2 linked regions of the Homo sapiens genome follow. The protein of the gene in region 1 interacts with the protein of each later gene in a pairwise test. Each region holds a gene or a part of one and is shown on either strand. Other genes may lie near its edges. The genes, in order: ITGA6 and USP40.

Evidence for each region.
Region 2: the proteins of ITGA6 (region 1) and USP40 interact in a two-hybrid assay, tested with the Homo sapiens proteins (one study listed by BioGRID).

What each region holds. Positions count from the first base shown.
Region 1 is NC_000002.12:172,486,544-172,493,825, reverse strand, and holds part of ITGA6 (integrin alpha-6 isoform b preproprotein), read right to left. Parts: intron 6,804-7,282; coding exon 6,688-6,803; intron 6,563-6,687; coding exon 6,373-6,562; intron 6,280-6,372; coding exon 6,196-6,279; intron 6,099-6,195; coding exon 6,019-6,098; intron 5,866-6,018; coding exon 5,788-5,865; intron 5,701-5,787; coding exon 5,598-5,700; intron 5,288-5,597; exon of another isoform or gene 5,177-5,287; intron 4,342-5,176; coding exon 4,168-4,341; intron 2,803-4,167; coding exon 2,704-2,802; exon of another isoform or gene 2,606-2,703; coding exon 2,495-2,605; exon of another isoform or gene 2,402-2,494; coding exon 2,303-2,401; exon of another isoform or gene 1-2,302. UniProt on the Homo sapiens protein: Integrin alpha-6/beta-1 (ITGA6:ITGB1) is a receptor for laminin on platelets. Integrin alpha-6/beta-1 (ITGA6:ITGB1) is present in oocytes and is involved in sperm-egg fusion.
Region 2 is NC_000002.12:233,563,508-233,571,242, forward strand, and holds the start of USP40 (ubiquitin carboxyl-terminal hydrolase 40), read right to left. Parts: upstream 3,276-7,735; 5' UTR 3,177-3,275; exon of another isoform or gene 2,840-3,176; intron 2,067-2,839; 5' UTR 2,048-2,066; coding exon 1,849-2,047; intron 1-1,848. UniProt on the Homo sapiens protein: May be catalytically inactive.

The sequences.
Region 1 (7,282 bases):
CAGAAGAAGACAGCACTTGAAGAGGAGACATCAGACCCAAGGTCTGGTCTCAGCTCTACTTGCTGGTCGGGTGACCCTGACGGGGAGATACCTTTCCTTGGATTCAGTTTTCTTATCTCAATTTGAGATTTGGGGACTTTAAGGGGACCAAGTGCCACAGAGTCAAAGAACAGAAGCCCTGAAGTCAGACAATTACAGGTTTCAATTGAGGGTCTCAAATTATATCCCCTCTCTGAGTCTGCTTCCTTGTTTGTAAAATGAGTACAATGTTTACCCTTGGCATTCTTCTGAAGTTTGAATGATAGAGTATAAAGTATCTAGTAAGCTGCAGACATTTTATTAAGGCTTCATTAATGTTAGTCCCTTCCCTCTAAAGTGTTCTCTGTCTAGCTCTGAAATCTCAGTGATTTTCAGAGTTGCTGATTTACAGTTATAGAAAGCTATACCTGCTGCCTTTATAGATGCAGAGAAAGGATCCTTAGGGAAGGTGTGGTTTATTTGAAAGTCCCTTATGATGCCTGTTGATATGTCCTGGAGAGACCGGGACAGTGCTGGTTGATACCACTTATCGCAGCAGCTTGCCCAGTACAGCATTTGTCTCAGGCAAATGTATCCTGGGGCTGGGTGCAGTGGCTCACACCTATAATCCCAGCATTTTGGGAGGCTGAGGCAGGCGGATTGCTTGAGTCCAGGAGTTAAAGACCAGCCTGGGCAACATGGTGAGACTCTGGCTATACAAAAAAAACTGAAAAATTAGCTGGGCGTGGTGGCATGCCTGTGGTCCCAGCTACTCAGGAGGTGAGACAGGAGGATTGCTTGAGCCCAGGCATTCAAGGCTGCAGTGAGCTGTGTTTGCGCCACTGCACTCCAGCCTGGGTAACAGAGCAAGACTCCATCTCAAAAAACTAAATAAAAACAAAAATGTATTCTTGCTTGGATAATAAATCGTAAGGACTGCTATATTTCAGAAAACAGAATGATTAGGGAGGCTCCCTGAATTTTCAGCTAGCTAAATGACTGAAGCCAGAACATTTCCATAAGTAGACTGGCAGATTAACTTAAGAACAGTAATTCACAGTATTTCTTTCTCCAGTCTCTTTTGCAAAACATTCCCATTCATTATTCCCACCATGACATGCAGTCATTCTGCCTCGAGATCTTTATACAAGTCCCTGTGGGTTCTAGACTCCCACAGGGAACCCCTCACTATTGGTTCACTACAAGGTTCTACACCTAGTCCTATTCAACATATTTGTCATTACCTGGATGAAGACATAGAGAACATGCTTCTCAGTTTTTAAAACTTTCAGGGATAGAAAGTTGAGAAAGCAAATGATGAAGCAAGATTCAGAATTACTTTGCAAACTGAAACAATGGACCCAAAGCAAATCACATAAAATGTAAGGATACACTTAAAGGCATACATTTAGATTTTTACAAATAGCTCAAGGACAGGATACTGGAAACACAGCTTGACAACAAATTCTGATGAAAACACCTGGAAGTTTCAGTAGAACACTAACACAAAAATAGCAGCTGCTAGAAATTCAAACATGCTGCTCAGCAATGGTTTGAAAAAGCAAATTTTAGGCAGGTCTGACAGAAGTGTGGTGCCGAGATGCTGAGAGGTAAAGGCCCCAGGGTAAGTGGGACCAAGCAGACCCCACCTCAGCTGCTCTGTCCACGTGGGAATCAAATTGCCCAGGAAGGGAGAGGCCAGGAGCCAGTTCAGCTGTGCCCAATGTGACGCATAACTCAAGAGCTGGGTGCATAAGCTCTGAGAAGAATAAGAAACATCCAAGGAGGCATGACCATTTCCTTCAATTATTTGAGAGGCTGCTACATGGCCAAGAGAGAGAACTTATTTTAGACTTGTTTGAGGGGCATAACCAGGGACTTACAAGGTTCAGTTCAGGAGTCAGCTATGAAGAGATCTTTTTTAATAATTACAGCTGGCCAAGGGATGGGCCATCACTGGGGCATTACACCAATGGCTGCAGCATTAGAGATGGTAGAAGACACAGGTTTCTAGAGGGCTGTGAGGTGCACCCATTCTCTGAATTGAGCCAGTAGTTCTCAAACCTACCATGGGCACTGCTGAACTGGATGACCCTAGATTTACTTCTTTTTTTCAATGATTCTATTAAAATACAGCTTGCAGTGCCAGTACCTTAAGACAGTTTTCTCCGTAATGGGGCTATGAGGGAAATGAGCACCAAAGCACATGACTTCAGGACATGAGTGTGGGGTACAGGGAAAAGAGACATGTTCTGAACCTGAATGAAGCTGGGGAACCTCTCACCTGAGTGCCTGCATTTGGCAGCCTGATATTTTCGGCAGCAGCAGTCACATCAATGAAGGCTCGCATGAGAATGTCCAAGTAGTTCAGTTTGGAATATTCCTGTTTGGAGACAGTGAATGCATTAGGGAAGTGAAAAGTGTCCTAGGCAAAGGCAAATTACTTCCATGGGACAGCCTCAAGCCAAGGTCATACCTCTAGAAATGTGCTGTTCCATAACCTCGAGCGCAAAATAAGAGACGCCTTGCTGTCCAGCCCCCGCAGCGGGCATCTGATGTTCACACAGTTCACGTTCACGCTACAGTTCTAGAGAGAAAAAGAAGAATGGTCATCAAAAGACATTGTTCTGAAGAAATCCTTCCCCTCATCCTCTCAAATATTCACAGCTCTTGAAAAATACTTACAAGAGTCTGGTATTTTCTTTCAGCAAATAAAGAAAATTTTCTGTTATCATCTATCTGTTTTTCAGTAATTTCCCGTTTCTTTCTTGAGTTGTGAGACTCCTGAAAAAAATTATATCCAAAATAGTTCCAATTTATGTAATTCTTTGTCATTACCATACAAGCCTCTTGAGCATATCCTCCCAAACAGTGCCAGATTCACATAATCAACAATATTTGCCTCTCTCCTGCCAAAGGCACAGAAGTAAGTGTAAAACCAGCAAGTATTATCACTCTAAATTCAAGTTTATTGATTTACTCATAGGACTAAGTAATTCATTCCCACTCTGACCTTAAAACTCAGAGAAAGAGAAATATGCTTTCTTTGTTCCTCTGTATCCCCACCAAACTGTGGGCATACTGAGATCAGAGATCAAATCTTATTCCTGTATCCCTAGCCTCCAGCTCTGTTCCTAAAACATGGTAGTCAGCACATCTTGAAGGAATAAGTGACACTGAAGAACAGAGAAAGAAGCAAAAAGACCCATTATATAGCTCATTCAGAGCAGAGCAATGAAAACTAAGCCATACAAGAACTTTTAAAATTGCATTTTCCTTATAGCAAAGATTAGTAATAACCGATTATCTTGATTTTTAACATTGATGAGTAGAAGATCATGCTATAAGCCACCAACTCTGATCACTGATCATACCCAGTCACCTTAGAATTTAAAATAAAAGAAATAAACATGCAAACCTTCATCAAACTGGAACACAAATGATAGGCCAGTTATCTAAGCATGGAGCAGTATAGAGAGAGGGGTTAACAGTACAGGCTTTGACATCAGGCAGAGCAGGGCTTGTATGTGGAATCTGTCTCTTAACGCCTGAGTGACTGAGAGAGTTACTTGCTCTCTGAATCTTAATGTCCTCATCTGTGAAATGGTGAGGATAATGAAACGCCCTCATAGGACCATCCAGAGAATGAAATGAGAAAATGAAAACAAAATGCTTAGCATAGTTCCTGAGACACAATGAGTACACAATAAATAATTACTATTTTAAAAATAAGCATAAAAAGCTTTCAAGGTTACTTGCTGAGATGCCATTATCTTTTCCAATGAGTTTGGTTCTACTTGGAGTGAACACTGGCTGGCCCCTGGATAACAGCAGCTACTATTACCCCAGGAGCATCCCCCAGTTCTCCTTATTATGTAACATACTGGGTCATGATGAAACATCAGAAAATACCATTTGCCTCAGCAAGCACTGAATGACTCTGCCTTATGTACTATAATGGTCATTAACCAGCAAAAATGCCTCAGCCTCCCTCAGTTACCCAACTAGAAAAGAGAAATTGTGACAACCAAAGAGAAAGTCAACCTGCCAGAATATGCCACTTTCCTAAGAACAGTAATGATTTTCCCCTAACAAGTTAGTTTCTCTAATTTGCATTTATGGAGACATTAGATAAATCTACCGACATACCGTTAGGTTCAGGGAGTTTATCTCCTTTTGTGGCTCACAAGTTACCTTTTCCAATCCTTTGGATTCTACTTTCACCAAATAAAGCAACCATTTCCCATTGCTAATTTCTTTTGGCCACTGAATGTTCAAGGTTGCTGTGCCGAGGTTTGTAAGAGGTTTACCTAAGTTTATTACCTGTTAGAAAATAATACATATTATCTCAGTCTAATCTTCTCAATGTAAATTTAAGTAGCAGCTCCTTTTACCAAGAGAAAGAAGCTAAAATATCTAACGTAATCCTATAATAAAAGCACAGGCTCCAAAAATGGACTATAGATAGGGCATTCAAAATAAAGACTTGTGCCTAAAGATTTTTGTAAATAAAAACAAAAAGGTCAAAGGACAACTGATAGCTAACTCGTTCTAGGAACAACTGCTGTATGCAACAGAATCAGCAGTGTAGATATACCATGTTCTCAACATACGCCCAGGGAAAATCATGTGTGAATTTGTGAACTGCCCTGTAACCACCCTGCTTGGCCAATGACAAGTCCTGGGCCAAGGCAGTGTACCAACAACCTGCTTCTGGAAAACCCCATCCACTGCAAAAATGAAGCTGCCTCTGTCCCAGAGGAGATTCTGCAAAACCATTATTAGGACAGCCATGAATCTGAGAGTCCAAGCTGGGAACAGAGTGACGTCCTGCGGCAGAAGCCAAACACAGGAGGTAAGAGCCCTCTTGGTGTCGAGACTGTTCCAGAACCCAAAGACTTCTTTTCCAGCTGCACCTGCATAGAGATCATAACCACCACCACCACCTGCCCCAGCTGTGTCTATAATGCTAAGAGACACACAGAGGAGAATTCAGCCTCTTCATTCTGCCGGAGTCAGGTGGGCCCATGCTTGCCATTTGAGGCTTTCACCACAGTGGTCACTATGCCTTCAGGAATGTGATTTCAGCCACACAGACCTAAACCCATGTGTGAGTTACGAACAGACTCTGTACCCTATGTTTATGTTTATTCAACAGGACAGAGAGTCACTGTGATTGCCTACTTTGAAATGGTTCAGAGCCAGTCACTGCCTTTCCTACAGGCATATACCAAATCTACATTCACCACAAAAACTGGGCTTGTGAAAGGTAGGCATACATTAATATTCTTTCAACCACAAGCAGTGAGAAAGATGACCTTATAAAGGAGGAAGGAATAAATCATAACGCATTCTAAACTGAACTGGATTCTGAACAGTGACAATTGTTCTCCATCCTGGAGGATAAAATTTTTACTATAAGCCAGTATGTTCTTTAAAAGCTGGCAAACTAATTTTTAACTCATGATTTACTTACAATGCTTATTAATATTGCTGATTTATTAAAATGACATACTCAAGACCATACCTAGTATATGTCAGCTTTTGGTATAATGAAAAGACCAACTGCTCCAACTTACCCTGAATTCATACTCTATTAAACTTCCCACTTCATCTTCAGATTTCATAGCTTGCTCGCCAACAACTGTACCTCCAAAATACACCTGGGAAGGTTTAGCAACTCTGTCAAATTAAAAAACACCAGTTTTAATGAGGATTGTAAATGGTTCTTTCAAACATTGATTTGTTATGCTAAACACAAACACTTACCCCGAGACCGATAAAAGCAGTTCAATAACCACTTTTGCTTTAGCTGTAATTGGAGCCAAATTATCTTGATTGCTTGTTCTGAAAATGAAAAGGAAACAATAGGGTTGTATTTTACCAGTCAGTTTTCTCACTACAATTAGACTTCTTTTATGAGGTAGATCAGGGCCAATTCATTGACTGCCCATATTTTCATGAAATAATTCTGAATGGAGAGGTTGATGTAACTCTTACGTTTCTAACTTCAGATTAATATCCAGATCTGGGGTGTCAAAGGTGACTTCAGTTGTACTTAAAACCAAATAAAAAGTGACCTAAAAAAACATAAATAGCTGTTAACACAGGCCATGCATACAGACACTGCAATGGTATTTAAAACAGTAAAATACAGTATATGAAGGCATCACCTACATTTGAATTTCTTTTAAAAGGATTTCCGAGCTCACAGTCAGCTTGCGAGCCATTCTGGTTGGCAACACAACTCAACTGTTTCTCCTGTAAAAGAAACACACGCTAGGTCACAATCCACTCATTTGCCACACAGTGTTGATTTTTTTCCCCTCTCAGCTGGTCTCTAACAATACTTACAGGGAAAGCCCTCAGTTCTCTATATGCAGAATAGGTTAAAGTGTCTGGAAACGTTGCAATCAGTTTAGCCTCATGGGCGTCATCGCCATCTTTTGTGGGATTCCTTGGGTTGGAAGGGCTGTTTGTCACTGTTATTTCTAAAGCAATATCCTTCTGATCTTTTAGAACTAGTTCTGGTACACCTTTTTGACTATTAAAAATAAGAAAACAAGAACAAAAAGGCAAAGTCCTCAATACGTTTCCAGTAAACTTTCTTAACACAAAGCCACCATGAAGCCAGAATCATTTTTGCTAGTGCTACACAACGATTCTTACATTGGTAAATAAGAAAATTTGTCTTGATTTCCTTCTCGGGTGCAAAATTTATATTCTAGTTTAAGGTTGCTGTTACATACATTGTCGTCTCCACATCCCTCTTTTAAGAAGTGAACCTGTAGGAAAACGAAAACTATTGTCAATTTACACCATTCAGGACTCAGGAAGGCATCGATGTAGGTGACTGGCTATTCCACACAGTTCATTTCCCTGTGTGACAATTACCAATGCAGAATTCAAGCTTTAAATGTACTTTGCCACACATCAAATTTCCATTCTGTCCTTTAGTAAAATTGTGTTTGAAGAACACTTTGACCAGGGCATGGAGGCAGTGTGGTATAGAAGAGTGTGACCCAGCAGCCACACAGATTTGGGTTTGAAACGCAGCTCTACCCCTTACTTAGCTAGCAAGTCACTTAACCTTTCAGAGTCCAAGTTTCATCATAGGTAACGTGGAGATACCACCATTCTAACTTTATAGGGCTACTATAAGAAGTATCAATAATAATGATGATACCAACGATTATAATACTCGATTTACATATCTTAACTCATTTAATCCTCACAACAGGCCTCTAAAAAGATACTATTATTA
Region 2 (7,735 bases), about 61 Mb from region 1:
ACTGTTAATGAATGTTATATTCTTTCTAAGTGCTGGGACTCGGCAAAAATGAACTACAAATCTACAAGTTAAAGCATAAAACCATACAAAAACTTTTATAATAATCTCCCAGTACTCTCAGCTACATTGTAATGGAGTACAATGGAACCCAATGTAGCCCTATTATTTAAAATACTATTCCAAAATTTCCCCCGCCAGTTCTCTGACAGTCCTTATTCTTTCCAAATTATACCTCCCTGTCAGTCACCATCAGGATTCAGGCTAAGCTATACAAGCAGTGCACATTGTGCACTAAGATGTCAAATCATATGCTTGGCCAGCAATCCCCTCTGCTGGAGAGGAAGTTGGCCTGGGACTCTCAGTACTACTCTTGCCTAATGGTACGCTCCATGACCCGCCCTACACTTCACCATCTTCCTCAGTCCCTTTGAGGCTACGTTTCTACTTCGAGTTGTCCTTTAACTTCAACTATATTAAAACCTGGAAAAGTGTTATCCCTATTAGAAATGTACTTATTAGTGCTGGCAATTTTTACTGGTGGAATTACTGATTGCATCAGGGAGATATTTTTATGGAGGGGATCGAGTCAAGGCTAAGAGGTACCACTTAAATCCCACATGCAATCCAACCCATTAAATTGCTCCTAGGAAGGTAACAGCGGTAAATATTTACTAAATCTCTGGAGGCAGCAAGTCTTTCTAAGCTTAGAAGCAACAGAAGAACCACAAAGATTTGATAAATGTGGTGGCAGTAGGGAAGAGGAACATGGCAAACCAGATAGGATGAGTCAGGCTGTCTGTCCTCCTAATATGGAGACACTGTGGAGAGCTGAGCTACAAAGCCATGTAGTGCTGGGGACCCCAGTCAGGGCCAGGTGAAGGCAAAGTAATGTTCACACTGAGCTCACGGGAACACAGCTCCTAGGACCCTTGTGGAGGAAGCTGGTTTGCAGAGATGGGGTATGGGAGAAATATATAGAGAGAAACAGGGGCAAGAAATCAAGGGTCCAGTAAGGTCAGGCTGGCTTCCTGCAGTTGATTTCTGAGATCCCCTATATTCTTACAATAACCCCCCTTTTAAATTTAGCTAATTTGGGTGGTGGGTCTGTTTCTTGCACACAATCCCTTACCTAAAATCTCTGGGTCTTTGGAATTCAGAATTTCCAGAGTTTATAAAGATAATATGAAAAAAGTGTTTTTTATATATATATAAAATGTTACATTCCCAGCAGGGTCTGGGCCAGCTTCCATTAATCAAGCAGATTAATATTCCTGTAATGAATGTATGAACATTCACCCACATGAGATAACTAAAAACTGTAAATAGCCTCACACCAGGTCTGGTTCTGAAGCCAAACAAGCTCAGGTGAGATCAGATGAGGGTGTGAGCTTTCCAGATTTCAGAAATGCGTATGAACAACTGTGCACCCATATAAATAATATGACACCCTTCCCCACTCCAAAAGGTAGATATAATTGGTTGGATAACTCTGGCTTAAGTGTTTGTTATTCTAGAGAAATCTTAAAACTCAAACAGTGTAACAATAATGAAGACTGATACTTATGACAATTGTCTTTACGTTGTACTTTAAATTACAGGAATTAAAAAAGAAATATATTGCTTTATTTTTTTACTAAACATTATTGTCATCACCCAGGATATATTTAAGATTAAGCTTCACATTTCTCTGCAGAGGGAATTACCAATTTATATCTTATATGTGCAACAATAAACACATACTGTAGAATATATCTTTAAGATAATTGGTCTATTTGTGATTTTGCATAATTAATTACATGTAAAGAAGATGGTACATATTGCTAGTTAAATGTACGTAACATAGCATACCTCTGAATTCAGGTGTGAAATGAAGAGTCTGAAGAAGGGAATTGAGGTAACAGGTTCCACCCTGATTTCTGATTCCGCTTAAATTGGTGAATTCTCTAGGAGCAGGTGGCTCCAAAGCTTTAGTCTTTAATTTCTTCCCTTTTCCATACTGATTATTAGACACAGTGGAATACTCCTCTTCAAACAGGTCCCCAAACATTGTGAAACTAAATACTACCCTTAAAAAAAGTGACATATAAATGCTTTTATTTTTAAAATAAATTTTCCCCAAATCCCCCTACCTTACACTTGGGAGTCGATTCTGTTGTTTCTTAGAACACAGGACTACTGTTTCTATGTACAGTAGTTGGGTTTTGGAGGCAGCAAGATCTAGATTTTTTTCATCCCTATCAGGACCCTAACTACCTGTGTGACCCTGGATATGTTAATCTGTTTTCTTATGTGTAAAATAGGATACCATCTGTCTCTTCGGGTCATTTAAACTATCCAATGACATAACGAAAGAAGGGCAGTTAGTGTACAGGGTTTGGCCCACAATAAGTAACAGCTGTTTTTAAAAAGGCACGTTCACATCACTAATTTTTTTAAAAAAGAAAACCTGTTGCCACAACTAATCCACTGCTGGGACGGCAAAGCCAACCCTAAATTCTGAGAATCAACTCTCTAAAATCTCTGCTTGTCACACCCTTCAGTACTATATACCAGATTATGACATTTAAATTAAACAGATCAAGTTAACTTTTTTTAGAGCACTTTAGTACAGTCCCGAAGCTGTTGGGCCGGAAGTCAGTTCACTGGGGAGGGAGGGGGGAAGGGGAGCGGAGGGCGGGGAAGACTGCCACTAAAATTATCAAGCCTAAAGGCCTTCCAGTATGTATCCACTAATCCCATCGTTAGCCCTGGGGGCCTAGGTGACTTCCCCAAGGTTTCACATCGAGTGTGGCGGAGGGTCACTTGGAGATGAGAAACGTAAAGCGCCTAGCATAGGTACCAAATGACAGGAAGCGCTGAAATGCAATTATTTTTCTTTTCCTCAGAAGAAAACTAAAAAAACACAACTCGAGAGTCTAGCCTCGAGCTCGTTGTCTGCATTCCTGAATTCCCAACTCCTACGGCCGGCCGAGGCCCTCCAAGCCACCACAGGCCCAGGGGCGCAAAAAGGCAGAGGTCCCCGTGGCCCGAAACCACTGCCCCGACTCCAGGAGAGCGCCGCGTCCTCAGGCAGGCCTGGGCAGCCTCTCGCCTCGCCCTCCTCAGACTGGGCCACCAACACTGTCCCTACGCTTCCCACGTCCCTCCCAGGATCCCCGGGCGCCAGCCGCACTTACTGCCTAAAGCCCAGACCCCCGCCCTGGCCAAAACGCGAAGCGAACGAACCCGCCCCAACTGGGCGCCGCCATGTTGGCGAGGGCGGGTCTCCAGAAAGTGATTTATGGATCGTGGACTATGCTTCCCAGGATGCCCCGCTGGAGCGCCGGCCCCTCGCACGGGGCCTTATGGGAAATGTAACTCTTCTGCTCCAAGAGTTTGGGAACTGGAGCGGGAGCGGGAGCGGGCAAGGTGAGCTCGCTTACAAGTCCGCTGGTGAGTTCGCGGGTCCACTCGGCCAGCGGACCACTCATTCGTTCACATTTATAAGATTATAGCTATATGATCTTATATAAGATTATAGCTATATGATCTTATATAAGATTATAGCTATATGATCTTATATAAGATTATAGCTATATGATCCTTATATAAGATTATAGCTATATGATCTTATATAAGATTATAGCTATATGATCTTATATAAGATTATAGCTATATGATCTTATATAAGATTATAGCTATATGATCTTATATAAGATTATAGCTATATGATCTTATATAAGATTATAGCTATATGATCTTATATAAGAGTATAGCTATATGATCTTATATAAGAGTATAGCTATATGATCTTATATAAGAGTATAGCTATATTATAGCTATATAACCTTATATAAGATTATAGCTATATAACCTTATATAAGATTATAGCTATATAACCTTATATAAGATTATAGCTATATAACCTTATATAAGATTATAGCTATATAACCTTATATAAGATTATAGCTATATAACCTTATATAAGATTATAGCTATATAACCTTATATAAGATTATAGCTATATAACCTTATATAAGATTATAGCTATATAACCTTATATAAGATTATAGCTATATAACCTTATATAAGATTATAGCTATATAACCTTATATAAGATTATAGCTATATAACCTTATATAAGATTATAGCTATATAACCTTATATAAGATTATAGCTATATAACCTTATATAAGATTATAGCTATATAACCTTATATAAGATTATAGTTATATAACCTTATATAAGATTATAGTTATATAACCTTATATAAGATTATAGTTATATAACCTTATATAAGATTAGTTATATAACCTTATATAAGATTATAGTTATATAACCTTATATAAGATTATAGTTATATAACCTTATATAAGATTATAGTTATATAACCTTATATAAGATTATAGTTATATAACCTTATATAAGATTATAGTTATATAACCTTATATAAGATTATAGTTATATAACCTTATATAAGATTATAGTTATATAACCTTATATAAGATTATAGTTATATAACCTTATATAAGATTATAGTTATATAACCTTATATAAGATTATAGTTATATAACCTTATATAAGATTATAGTTATATAACCTTATATAAGATTATAGTTATATAACCTTATATAAGATTATAGTTATATAACCTTATATAAGATTATAGTTATATAACCTTATATAAGATTATAGTTATATAACCTTATATAAGATTATAGTTATATAACCTTATATAAGATTATAGTTATATAACCTTATATAAGATTATAGTTATATAACCTTATATAAGATTATAGTTATATAACCTTATATAAGATTATAGTTATATAACCTTATATAAGATTATAGTTATATAACCTTATATAAGATTATAGTTATATAACCTTATATAAGATTATAGTTATATAACCTTATATAAGATTATAGTTATATAACCTTATATAAGATTATAGTTATATAACCTTATATAAGATTATAGTTATATAACCTTATATAAGATTATAGTTATATAATCTTATAAATATGAATGAATGAGTGGTCACATTTATAAAGATATAAGATTATATTTATATAATCTTATATCTTTGTCTTTCGTCTGTGAATCAAACTAATGGCATGTCAAAGTATTGTCTGGACAATCCTTTCATTCCATAGCTTCCTCTCCTCCTATCAGATCCCCATGAAATCTCACCTGCATTAGGATGATAGCCTTTTCAGTGGACTCCCGTTTTACACACCCCTTCCTGCACGTCACTATAAGATGCACTATCCATCTAAGGTGCACTTTGAGCTCAAACCTCTCTGCTAAAGAAGCTTCCACGATTTCTCAACATCCACTGTGGAAATTCTTTATTTTGATTCTTAGTTCGCTGATGGTCCCAACATTCTTTTCATACTGTATTTCTCACTACACACCTATTTACCAAAGTGCTTTCAAATGTGCCATCTATAAAGCTGCTAATCCCTGAGCCTTTAAGGGAAAAGATAAACACCAGCTGCAAGTCTTTTTGTTTTATGATAAAAAGCCCTGTACAACGAAAACACTTTTTCTGGTTTGGTTCCATGAAAACCAATGCTCTGTCCCTGAAGTCAGGAAGTACCTTGCCAGTAAGGGACTTCCTTTTAAATTGCTTTTGATATTGGACAATGTCCCTGGCCACCCAGAACCCCATAGATTCTGCAATGAGAGCACCAAAGTGGCCTCCTTGCCCCTAAACACAACATGTCTAATTCAGCCCTTAGATCAAGGGGTCATAAGGAACTTTAAGGCTCATTACGTACGGTTTTCTATGGAAAGGGGTGTCAACACTATGGAAGAGAATCTCAACAGGGAGAATATCGTGAAAGTCCAGAAGGATTACACCATTGAAGAAGCCCATGTTGTTACAGAAAAAGCTGTGAAAGCCATCAAGCCCCAAACAATACATTAGTGCTGAAGAAAACTGCGTCCAGATTCCAGATGTTGTGTGTGAGTTCACAGGATTTACAACAGCCTATCAAGGAAGTCATGGAAGAGATTGTGGATATGGCACCAAAAAAAAAAAAAAGAGGCATAAAGTGTTTGAAGATCTAGATCTTGGGGAAATTCAAGAGTTAATAGATACCACATCTGAGGAATTAACAGAAGATGACTTGATGGAGATGAGTGCTTTTGAATCAGTACCAGAGAATGAGGAAGAAGATATAGAAGAAGCACTGTCAGAAAATGAATTGACATTAGACAATCTTGCAGAAGGGTTCTGATTATTTAAGACTGCTTTTGACTTCTTTTACAACTTGGACCCTTCTATGATACGGGCATTGAAACTAAAGCAAATAGTAGAAGAAGGATTAGTACTGTATGCAAGCATTTTTATTTATTTATTTATTTTTATTTTATTTTTTTGAGACAGAGTCTTGCACTGTCACCTGGGCTGGAGTGCAGTGGTGCGATCTTGGCTTACTGCAACCTCTGCCTCCCAGGTTCAAGTGATTCTCCTGCCTCAGCCTCCTAAGTAGCTGGGATTACAGGTGCCCGCCACCACGCCCAGCTAATTTTTTGTAGTTTTAGTAGAGATGGGGTTTCACTGTGTTGACCAGGCTGGTCTCAAACACCTGACCTCATGATCCACCCACCTCAGCTTCCCAAAGTGCGGAGATTACAGGCGTGAGCCACTGCGCACAGCTCAGGCATTTTTAAAGAATTGAAAAAGCAAAACTATCAGACAGTAATTATGATGTATTTCCATAAAGTCAAACTGAGTGTGCCTGTCTCTCCTGCTTCCCCTTCCACCTCCTCCACCAATTCCCCCTCTGCCACTCCTGAAACAGCAAGACCAACTTCCCCCTACCCCCACCCCTCCTCAACAGCCCACTCAATGGGAGACAGTGAGCATGGAGACCTTTATGGTGATACACTTTCACTTAATGAATAGTAAAGATCTTTTCTTTTTCTTTTTTTCTTTCTTTTTTTTTTTTTTTGAGATGGAGTTTCACTCTTGTTGCCCAGGCTGGAGTGCAATGGCGTGATCTCGGCTCAGTGCAACCTCTGCCTCCCAGGTTCAAGCAGTTCTCCTGGCTCAGCCTCCCGAGTAGCTGGGATTACAGGCATGCAACACCACGCCCGGCTAATTTTTTGTATTTTTAGTAGAGACGGGGTTTCACCATGTTAAGGCTAGTCTCGAACTCCTGACCTCAGGTGATCTGCCCGCCTTGGCCTCCCAAAGTGCTGGGATTACAGGCCTGAGCCACCGCGCCTGGCAGTAAAGATCTTTTCTCTTCCTTATGAATTTTAACATTTTCTTTTCTCTAGCAGACTTTATTGTAAGAAAAATACAGCATATAATACATATATTACACAAAATATTTATTAATTGACTTTATGTTATTGGCAAGGCTTCCAGCAAACAGTAGGCTACTGTAGTTATGTTTTAGGGTAGTCAAAAGTTCTATGCTCATTTTTGACTGCACGAAGTTGGTGCCCCTAATCCTCGCTTTATTCAAGGGTCAGCTGTAGCAGCAATGAACAATTGAAAATTGGAATGAAAATACCACTCAAAATAGCATAAAAATATGAAATACTTAGGGCTAAATCTGACAAAAGATGTGAAAGACTGTACACTAAAAACTACAAAACTTTAATGAGTGACCTAAATACACAGTCATGTTCATGAATTGAAAAACTCAAAATTTTTAAGATGTCAGTTCTCCCAGTTCATCTATAAATTCAATACAATCCCAACCAAATCCCAGCAGGCTTTTTTTTTGTGCAAAT